3 linked regions of the Homo sapiens genome follow. The protein of the gene in region 2 purifies or fractionates together with the protein of the main gene of each other region. This does not show direct contact. Each region holds a gene or a part of one and is shown on either strand. Other genes may lie near its edges. The genes, in order: ACSL3, IFT140 and NTPCR.

Region 1 (3,651 bases), on a different chromosome or scaffold from region 2:
TTTTTCTTTTGTTATCATCAGAATTTGTATTGATAGAGGAACTCTGACTATGCCCAACGAAGGCAAATACTTTTTTGAAGGCCATAAAATAGTAACATCAGGAAGAAGATGCTTCTGGTTACTATCACATGAATAAATCCAGATCTGTATCATCACTAAAGAAAATACTAAATGGCTAAAGACCAGAATCATTTATAAATAAATGCAATTCATTTCTAACTTGGGCTGTACCCCCAACATCTGTTTCTAAATTAGTTTTCCTGATAACAGATTTTATTTTCCCATAATAATTCATGTCAACTGTCGTAGACAGGTCCCCAGCTGCCTCTTCATCATCATGAGGTGGGGAGGCTGTGTGTTTAGGCTGCAGCTTAACACAGCTTACATAGGAGCCCCAAGACCTGCCTGGAGTGCCGAGCAGGCTCAAGTGTAGAGCAGGAGTAAGTAAGCAGCACACTCCTCACTGCCACTTCTTTACTCCCCATTCCTCTGGAGTAGTTCTGTGAAGCTTCCCCTGCTGAGGGACAGGTAGGTAGGGGTACCAAGGCAGCAGGAAGGAAGGTTTTATTTTCTTCACCTCCCTCCATGGGACACTGCAGTGAGACGTAAAGCAGAAAACAGGGACAGAGAGAAAGATCAGGGGAAGCCTTACAAGGAAAAGAGTCAGCTAATGGCTGCAATGAGAAGGAGGCCATTCCCACAAGTAACAGATAGGAAGAGTTCTCGGAACATTTTTACAAAGAAGGTCCATACAGGTAGGAAATGTCTATGGACATCAAATATTTTAAGTAAAAGTAGTATGAATTCCACGTTCTTACCTGTTTGCATATGCACAAATGTTATCTACTAGTGGAAGATTCTTCAAAGCTGCCTCTACTTTCCCAAGAGAAACATATTCCCCTGCCTGTAGTTTTACAAGGTCCTTTTTACGATCTGCAAAACAAAGAAAGGTGGAGAGGGGAAAACAATGAGTAATAATATTAGTAACATTTAATACATATATAAATACTGGCCATTCTCTAAGTAATTTGCTATCAAATTATTTAAAACTTTGCAAAATTAAGCATTAATGGTTATGCTGAAATTAAAAGCACATATTAAAATTAGGCCCTAATTTTTGTACTGCTAAATACATGCTTTTTTTTTTTTTTTTTTTTTTTTGAGACGGAGTCTCGCTCTGTCGCCCAGGCTGGACTGCGGACTGCAGTGGCGCAATCTCGGCTCACTGCAAGCTCCGCTTCCCGGGTTCACGCCATTCTCCTGCCTCAGCCTCCCGAGTAGCTGGGACTACAGGCGCCCGCCACCGCGCCCGGCTAATTTTTTGTATTTTTAGTAGAGACGGGGTTTCACCTTGTTAGCCAGGATGGTCTCGATCTCCTGACCTCATGATCCACCCGCCTCGGCCTCCCAAAGTGCTGGGATTACAGGCGTGAGCCACCGCGCCCGGCCCATGCTTTTAAAAGAAAAACAGGCCAGGTCCAGTGGCTCATGTCTGTAATCCCAGCACTTCGGGAGGCCGAGGCGGGCACATCACTTGAGGTCAGGAGTTCGAGACCAGCCTGGCCAACATGGTGAAACCCCGACTCTACTAAAAATACGAAAACTAGCTGGGCGTGGTGGTGCACACCTGTAATCCCAGCTACTCAGGAGGCTGAGGCAGGAGAATTGCGTGAACCCAGGAGACAGAGGTTGCAGTGAGCTGAGATGGTGCCACTGCACTCCAGCCTGGGCGACAGAGCAAGACTACATCTCAAAAAAAGAAAGAAAGAAAAACAATTAACTTCTACTTAATGGACTCCATTAGCAGGGCTTCAAGTATGTTCTTCTGAACAGGTTTATTTCTGGTATCCATTAGTACCAGGCAGGTGAAGAAGATATTCAATGCCATCTGCAAGTTCACAACCTATCTGGAGACATGCATAATGCAAAAACGTATTACTTCAATACATTGGTACTACAATGGTAGCGCTAAGTGTTAAGACTCTCCAACCTGGGGATTTGGAAAAAATTCTTGCAAGTGAGGCCTGAGCTGAGGGTTGGATGGTTGGTTGGTTTTGAGATTTTGAGACAGGGTCTCACTCTGTTGCTCATACTGGAGTGCAGTGGCACAATCACGGCCTCCTGGGCTCCTGTGATACTCCCACCTCAGCCTCCCGAGTAGCTGGGATTACAGGCCTGAGTCACTATGCTCAGCTGCTTGAGCCGAGTCCTAAGGGAAAAGTGAGAGGTCAGGTGCAACAACACTGGCAAAAGCCAGAAGAACATCAGCTCTAATTTCAGCTGCATCAAGGAGGAGGAGGAAAACAACTGACGATGAAGGTGAAGAGGGGAACAATGTTAACAGGGGCACCCTGAACTGAGCTTCTAGGAGACATTAAATGGTTGTGGCCAGTAAGATCCATGTTTAGTAATTACATGGTGGCAGTGAGAGGGTGTGTTTAAGGGGGTAAACATGGCAACAGAGAAATTATTGGGAGAGGGTGGCAGAAGGTACAGGCCTGACCAATGATCAAGTAAGAGAGACAAAGAGAGAAGAGTATGATTTTGAGACATAGCTCATAAAATAAACTAGTGGGATATAAAATAGGCATGGGAAGCTGACTGAAGAGAACAGTCTTGAGTCTCCTCCCAGGTTTCTAGTTAGCAAGACAGGGATAGAAATGCCATTAACTTTTTTTTTTTTTTTAGACAGAGTCTTGCTCTGTTGCCCAGGTTGGAGTGCAGTGTCGCGATCTCCGCTTGCTGCAAGCTCTGCCTCCCGGGTTCATGCCATTCTCCTGCCTCGGCCTCCCAAGTAGCTGGGATTACAGGTGCCCGACAAAGACACCACACACGGCTAACTGAAATGCCATTAACTTTTAAAAAAAAAGAACCTAAAAGGAGAAGCAGAATAAGGTATTTTTCAACCCATATGAGTCATAGTACTTGAGCTGCCTGGCTTTCCTCTATTCTCCTGGGCAGGGCAAGGCAAGGGTGCAGTTCAGACTGTGAGAGCTCCATCCACTAATCTCTAGATGTCAGAAACACAGGCAGGAAACAATGACTGAAGGTTATCTAAGAGTAATTTAAAATACCACTGCTGCTGAACCATCTTTGAGAACTCATAACATGTCAGGCCTCATAAATTCCACAGTCCGTAATATTTTATATTCCAGGAGTGATGCAACAACCCAAACTAAGATTACATAAAGATTTATATTATTCAGCGCCTCCTCTAAATATATTGTGCTTCTTGTGTAAACTATTTCAGAAACATTCATTTTCAAAAAAATATTAGATGACTTACCAATAATCTTTAAGCATCCATCGGGTTCAAACTCTCCAATATCCCCAGTACAGAGCCACCTTTGTCCATTTTCATCTTCAAAGAAATCAGCTTTTGTTTTTGCTTCATTTTTGTAGTACCCCATTGTCACACTTTGGCCCCCAATAAGAATTTCACCCCTGGGGTGTGGCTTATCAGTATTAAAGTATCCACCTAATAAAATAATAATTGAGTTAATAGTTGAGTTAAATACAACACATGAAAATTTGAAACTACTAGTTTCTAAACAGTCATCTTATTTTAATCCAATTAGAACTTCCCAAAGGAAAAAAGGCAGACACTATGAATGAACAAAGTTTATCAATTTAACAGTAGGCACAAAATCT
Region 2 (3,651 bases):
CAGGCGCCCGCCACCATGCCCGGCTAATTTTGTAATTTTTTTTAGTAGAGACAGGGTTTCTCCCTGTTGGTCAGGCTGGGCTCAAACTCCTGACCTCAGGTGATCCACCCACCTCGGCCTCCCAAAGTGCTGGGATTACAGGCGTGAGCCACCACACCCAGCCCTCATTTTAAGAAAAATTTTACATTCTTCACTTGAGAATATGTCTTAGGCCGGGCATGTTGGCTCATGCCTGTAATTCCAGCACTTTGGGAGGCCAAGGTGAGAGGATCACTTGGGCCTAGGAGTTTGAGACCAGCCTGGGCAACACAGTCAGACCCCCATCTCCACAAGAAAAAAAAACAGTAATAACCCACAAATATATATGAAGTAATAACACATTTATATTTAAAAAAAAAAAAAAAAAGAATATGGCTGAGCATGGTGGCTCACACCTGTAATCCCAGCACTTTGGGAGGCCGAGGTAGGTAAATCACCTGAGGTCAGGAGTTCGAGACCAGCCTGACCAACATGGAGAAACCCCGTCTCTACTAAAAATACAAAATTAGGCTGGATGCCATGGCTCATGCCTGTAATCTCAAGCACTTTGGGAGGCTGAGGAGGGTGGATCATGAGATCAGGAGATCGAGACCATCCTGGCCAACATGGTGAAACCTCGTCTCTACTAAACACAGAAAATTAACACAGGTGTGGTGGTGGGCGCCTGTAGTCCCAGCTACTCGGGAGGCTGAGGCAGGGGAATTGCTTGAACCCGGGAGGCTGAGGTTGCAGTAAGCCAAGATTGTGCCACTGGACTGCAGTCTGGGTGACAGAGAGAGACTCTGTCTCAAAATAAAAATAAAAATAAAAATACAAAATTAGCCGGGCGTGGTGGTGCATGCCTGTAATCCCAGCTACTGGGGAATCTGAGGCAGGAGAATCACTTGAACCCGGGAGGTGGAGGTTGCGGTGAGCTGAGATCGCCCCATTGCACTATAGCCTGGGCAACAAGAGTGAAACTCCATTTCAAAAAACAAAAAGAGAATATGTCGGCCAAGCATGGTGGCTCACGCCTGTAATCCCAGCAATTTGGGGGGCCGAGGCAGGCAGATCACGAGGTCAAGAGATCGAGACCATCCTGGCCAACGTGGTGGAACCCCATCTCTACTAAAATACAAAAATTAGCTGGGTGTGGTGGCAGGCACCTGTAGTCCCTGCTACTTGGGAGGCTGAAGCAGGAGAATCGCCTGAACCCAGGAAGTGGAGCTTGCAGTGAGCCGAGATTGCGCCACTGCACTCCAGCCTTTCCACCCTTAGTAGCCCAGTAAAAAATGGCATCTCCGTGAATTTTGATATGTATTTCTATCATGAATAAAGCTAAGCATTTTATATTTGGGAACCACCCATATTTCCATTTGAATAAACTGTTCCTGGCCAGTCACAGGGCTCACATCTACAGTCCCAGTGCTTTGGGAGGCTGAGGCAGGAGGATTGCTTGAGCCCAGGAGTTCAAGACCAGCCTGGGCAACACAGCAAGACCCTGAGTCTATGAAAAAAAATTTAAAAAATTAGCTGGGGATGGTGGCACACTCCTGTATTCCCGGCTACTCAGGAGGAAGGAGGATTGCTTGAGCCTGGGAAGTTGAGGCTGCAGTGAACCAAGATGGCACCACCACAGTCCAGCCTGGGCAACAGAGCGAGACCCTGTCTCAAAAAAAAAAAAAAAAAGGCTAAGATGGTAAATTTTGTGTTCTGTGTGTTTTTACCCCCCACCATAGGTGAGTGCACCATTCCCTGTGTATGATCAGATGCCAGCGTGAAGGATGGCGAGTCTACACTTGCGGACCTCCTGGGTGTGCCGTATGTGAAACCTAGGGCAGGGGGCACCCACCGCAGCCTTCCTGGAGAACTCATAACCAAGCAAGCAGCCATTCCCACAGCCTCTGGGGACAGGAGACCTGAGCCGTGGTGCCTGCGTGGAGCCGAGCCCAGGCCCCGCTGGCCCCGTACCTTCCTGGCAGCCAGCAGCAGCTCTACCGCCCTCTCGTACTGACTGTGCTCGATGAAGAAGTCGGAGCAGCGGGCCAGGAGCGCAGGGTCTGACGTCTCATCCAGGTCCTCTGCTATGAGCTGTAGGGCCACAAACTGCTGGGTGGCAAAGGCCAGCTCCAGGGCCTTGGAGAAGTGGCCAGCCTGCGGATACGGTGGGCTCTGAGCAGCTGCCCGAGGCCTGGGGGCCCGAGCACGGAGGCCTCGCACAGGCAAGGGCCCCCTGGCTTGCTGCCCCTCCCCCAGGTCCCCACCGGTGGCCAGCCCTCACCTTGTGGTACAGCATGACCGCCCTGTCCATCTGCACGCCCTTCTCCTCGTAGTATCGGGCCGCCTCGATCATGTCCTCGGGGGAGCTCAGCAGGGCCAAGTTCATGAGCTGGTCGTCCAGGCCGTTCTCCTGCAGGGAGGGAGGCAGGGCCCTGAAGCGGCTCCCACTGGCTTCCCCAGGTCCGCTGAGATTCTGGAATGTGGCCGGGTGCGAACCCGCCCCTTCACTTTGACACACTGCTCAGCGATCTCTGCGGTGATGGGTTTTAAGGAGCTGATGACTTACTGGGTTTGTCTACAAGGATTTTCCGATGCTCTGGGTTCTATTTCACAGAGCACTGCAAGAAATACCTGACACGGGAGATGCTTCTGGAAGCGAGAGCCCAGGTTGGGACATTTGTGTGGTGCAGAACGCCCAACAGCTATCTAGGAAGGGTCTGCCGTCTGCAAGGCCATAGGCCGTGAGCAGCCTCACCACCCACTCAGGAGCCCTGGAGCCTGGGAAACATCTGGGGACAATTCAGTGCTTTGCAAACAATGTCAGATGGAAGCGGCCAGGGGTGGGCAGAGGGGTGGGCGGGTGAGGCAGACGGGGTGAGCAGTGAGTGGCAGACACTGGCCGGACCACGTGTCACTGACACGATTCTCTCTGTCCACTTTTCCACTTGAAGCTCTCCTCAGGGGACCTCGAGAAGCGCCGGCTCCCCACCCCGGGCCCGTGGTACCTTGCACAGGCGGATGGCATTCTTGAAGGCCTGTGCCCGGGTGTAGAAGTGCACCGCCTGCCCGACCTCCTCCTGGCTCTCGTACTGGCGGGCGAGGTGGTAGGAGGCCGCCAGGTTTCCTGTCTCGTTGGCTATTTGCGCAGCCTAGAAAGACAAAGAACCCAAAGACGAGACACGGTGGCCTTGTGTCTGCCTCGTGTCCGCCTGGCCGGCTCCCCTGCGGGGACCTTACCTTCTGGACATTGCCCTGGAAGCAGTGGATGCGGACCAGGGAGAAGTGGTCCCGGGCCAGCTCGTAGTAGTGCAGCGCGGCGTCCATCTCGCCCTGGCTCTCCAGGTACTGCGCCCACCACCGCCACAGGGTCCTGCGGGCAGCCCAAGACCATGGATTCTCCACCCGAGCCCCGCTCCAACCCGGGACGGCCCCCACCCCGCCCCTGTGCCACCCTTAGAGTGCATGTCACCTGACCTGCAAACAGGCTGGGCCAAGAGTGAGGACCCCTGGCTTTGTCCAAAGGGAGGGCCTGGCTCAGGGCCCTGGCATGGCTCTGAGGAGCCGGGAGGACGCTGCCCACTCGTGCAGGAAGCACGGGAAAGGGAGCCGTCTCAGCAAGCCCTGGGGTCCCTG
Region 3 (3,651 bases), on a different chromosome or scaffold from region 2:
TTCTACTGATGCTTTACTAGGTAATAGGAGGTGCCAAAGATTGTATCAGTGAGATTTTATTTTCCTTCTCAGGTACTGTTCTTTCTTTTCTTTTTTCAGCTATTTTTTTTAACACATCAGAGAATGTTATCGTTTTGCCTCAACTGTCAAACATAATTCTTCAAAAGTCAACAGAGGAAGAAAAGCCCACTACACTCACTCAGAGTTTTACTCTTCCCATTGTTCTTTCTTCCTTCCTGATGTTCCAGGTCTCCTTTTACCATTTCCTTTCTGATAAGAGAACTTCCTTTGGCCATTCTTTTAGAGCAGTTCTATTATGACAAATTCTCTTAGTTTTCCTTCATCTGTGAATGTCTTATAGAATTATGAGTCGACAGTTGTTTCAACACTTGGAAAATGTACCACCTCCTTCTGGCCTTCATGGTTTCTCCTGAGAAATCTGCTGTCACTCATATTGTTTTTACCCTATAGGTAAGGTGCTGCTTTCCTTTCACTGCTTTCAAGACTTTAATTTTCATAAGTTTGACTATGGTATGTCTTGGCATGAATTTGAGTTTATCCTCTTGGGGTTCACTGAAAATGTAGGTTTATGTCTTTTGCCAAATATGACAAAAATGCAGCCATTACTTCTTCAAACACTTTTTCAACCCCACACTCATCTCCTGTTACTACAATGATGTGAATGTCACATCTTTTGTTATAGTCCCACAGGTCCCAGAAACTCTGTTCATTTTGTTCATTACTTTTTCTTTTAAGTCTGCTCTTTGTCAGGTAATTTCTATTGTTCTACCTTCAAGTTCACTGATTCTTTCTCCTGTCATCTCTATTCTGCTGATGAGCCCATTCAGTGACTTTTTTATTGGCTATTGTATAGTTCTAAAATTTTCATTTGATTCTTCTATCTTCTAGGTTTTTGCTGAAACTTTCCAGTTCTTGCTGAGACTATTTTTCATTTGTTTCATGTGTATCTGTAATTTTATGAAGCATTTTTATGATAGCTGTTTTCAAATCCTTGCCCTATAATTCCACTATCTGAGTCACCTTGCTGTTGAGATCTGCTGATGGCCTTTCCTCACTCAGGTTTAGGTATTCCTGATTCTTGGCATGACAAATGATTTTCAGTTGTGTCTGTTGTGTTGTTCCTTAGGTCCTTAGGTTCCTAGCCAGTCTGTCTTTTTCTCTTCACTTTTCAGGTCTTCTTATGCTTGTATTATAAATAACATCCTTAGCAGGAAAAATAAACACAAGTGTGTCTACTCTATCTTGTCTAAAACTGGAAGAGTTCTCGGGTGTTTTTGGAAAGTACTCTGTTCACCCAACGTTATGAAGAATAAGTCAAGATAATATTACTAATTTGTGTGGTATATTTCCCCCATATCATGAGCTCAGTCTCATCTTCACACTATGCATATTCATTGGAAAGTACTCTGTTCACCCAACATTGTGAAGAATAAGTCTAGATAATATTACTAATTCGTGTGGTACATTTCCCCCATATCACGGGCTCAGTCTCATCTTCACACTACGCATGTTCAGCTGGTAGCAAGGGGACGCTGACTCTGACCCCTTTTCATAGCTCATTTTCTTACCTGGAATGTTCTCCCTTCTTTTTCCCATTTCCTCCTTCAAGAGCCAACTCAAGAACCCCTTCCTTTGGACACCTCTCCACTACCACTGCTCACATAGATCTCTCCCTTCCCTGCCCCTAGATTTTGATTGCCCCATGGTCTGTTTTTCTTGAGGGCAGAGATCATGCCTCACAGGTGCCTAAACGATGGACTAAGTACTGAATGTGAAGGGCACTCTCAAAAATGGATTCGGATACTTTATTGCATGTGAGCAATGGAAAGAACCCAAAAATATATCTAATCCAACACCTAAGTTTGCAGATAAAGAAAATGAGGTTCTTGGCCAGGCACAGTGGCTCATGCCTATAATTCCAACACTTTGAGAGGCTGAGGCAGGCAGATTGTTTCAGCTCTTCAATTCGAGATCAACCCCGGGCAACATGGTGAAACCCCATCTCTACAAAAAATGCACAAATGAGTCAGGTGTGGTGGCACATGCCTGTAGTCCCAGCTTTTTGGGAGGCTGAGGTGGAGGATGGCTTCAGCCTAGGAGGCAGAGGATGCAGTGAGCCAAGAGCATGCCACTGCACTCCAGCATGGGCCACAGAGACTAACCTTGTCTCAGAAAAAAAGAAAATGAGGTTCTTGATTTATAAAACTGGAAAAGGCCAGGCACAGTGGCTCACACCTGTAATCCCAGCACAGATTACTCTGGGCAACAGAGCAAGACTCTGTCCCTCCCCCTCAAAAAAATAAGTTAAATAAAAAATAAAATAAAACTGAAACAGAAGGACCACACAAACCCCAAAGCAACAACAACAAAAAAAAACAGGGTATGTCAGCCCCTATCTCTTACTTAATTAACTCAAAGCTAATTGTTTTATTTACAGATCATTAGAAGCAATGATTATCTTGCCTGGAGAATAATTTTGAGTCTCAGAGAGCGGAAGAAATGTGGTATGATCCTAAGACACAAAGTCTGTTTCTGGGCATCACAGTCAGCTCCTTTCAATCCTTCCTTAGGACTGTTAGATTAGATTAGTTTGTGGAACTAGCCAATCCCTGGAGTCTAACACTAGCAATTTCCCGGTCTTCCAGCCTAGAAGCTATCTGACCTCAAAACTAATTTTCTTTCATGATCTTTCACTATTCATTGCCTTGATTTCCATGGAAACTCTATAATCACAACCAAAAATGTAAAATAAGAGAAGACGACATGAAACTCTGAAGAACCCCACAGACTTTTCAGGGCTCTCAAATGTCACCTCCTTGAAGAGACCTTCCCTGATCGCCCTTGCTACTCCTGCCCCCAACTACCACATTGCCTGGTTTCTTTATTTTTGCCTTTATCAGTATCTGAAATTGCTTAACTTATCTGTTCACATTTTTGGTATTCAGCTCCTCCATTAGAATGTAAGCTCCATGAAAGCAGCGCCTTGGTCAGTCTCGTTCACCACAGTATCCCAAGACTTAGAATGACACCTAGCATACAGTAGGTGCTCAATCACTATTGACCAAATGAAGGAATAAATAAATCAATAAAGAAGCGCATACATTTTTCCAAGTCTGGCTGGTCTAACCCTAATGGCTGTTTACCACCACACTCCAGGATTCTTGGTGGCAACATGTGGATACTCCAGGATTCTTTGGTGGCAACATGTGGATACTGCCAGTGGGCCAAGGTGACATTTCACTCAGTGATTAAAATGATCATGAGGAAGGTGCTCACGGGTACTCACTCTCCACTCCCCCTGATAGGAGTGGCCCTGCCTGCCTGACTTGTTCACTTGGCACTTGCAGGGCCAGGGAGCTTTTAAACTGGGGGTGGGGAGTGAGGTGTGTGAGCAGAGCTCAGCCAAGAGCACAGCTACCACTGACTCAAAGAAACTAAGGGTAGGGGTTGGGGAGAAGCAATATCTGACTGAGAGGAAAACAGAGGGACAACAGGGAAAGAAAGGCAAGAATTTAGACAAAGTGCCAGCAATGCCATGAGTCCCTTCCGACTGGCTCAGACGCTGCCACTGGTCAACAAGCCCTAGCCCCTCATCTCTCACATGTGGTCTACAGCAGTGCTTCTCAAAGT

The links.
Region 1: the proteins of IFT140 (region 2) and ACSL3 purify together in Homo sapiens (affinity purification with mass spectrometry; one large-scale study listed by BioGRID and IntAct). This does not show direct contact.
Region 3: the proteins of IFT140 (region 2) and NTPCR purify together in Homo sapiens (affinity purification with mass spectrometry; one large-scale study listed by BioGRID and IntAct). This does not show direct contact.

Annotation. Positions count from the first base shown.
Region 1 is NC_000002.12:222,930,448-222,934,098, reverse strand, and holds part of ACSL3 (fatty acid CoA ligase Acsl3), read right to left. Parts: intron 3,479-3,651; coding exon 3,287-3,478; intron 934-3,286; coding exon 819-933; intron 1-818. UniProt on the Homo sapiens protein: Acyl-CoA synthetases (ACSL) activates long-chain fatty acids for both synthesis of cellular lipids, and degradation via beta-oxidation.
Region 2 is NC_000016.10:1,521,529-1,525,179, forward strand, and holds part of IFT140 (intraflagellar transport protein 140 homolog), read right to left. Parts: intron 3,389-3,651; coding exon 3,256-3,388; intron 3,168-3,255; coding exon 3,024-3,167; intron 2,429-3,023; coding exon 2,300-2,428; intron 2,173-2,299; coding exon 1,990-2,172; intron 1-1,989. UniProt on the Homo sapiens protein: Component of the IFT complex A (IFT-A), a complex required for retrograde ciliary transport and entry into cilia of G protein-coupled receptors (GPCRs).
Region 3 is NC_000001.11:232,970,985-232,974,635, reverse strand, and holds part of NTPCR (cancer-related nucleoside-triphosphatase), read right to left. Parts: intron 1-3,651. UniProt on the Homo sapiens protein: Has nucleotide phosphatase activity towards ATP, GTP, CTP, TTP and UTP. Hydrolyzes nucleoside diphosphates with lower efficiency.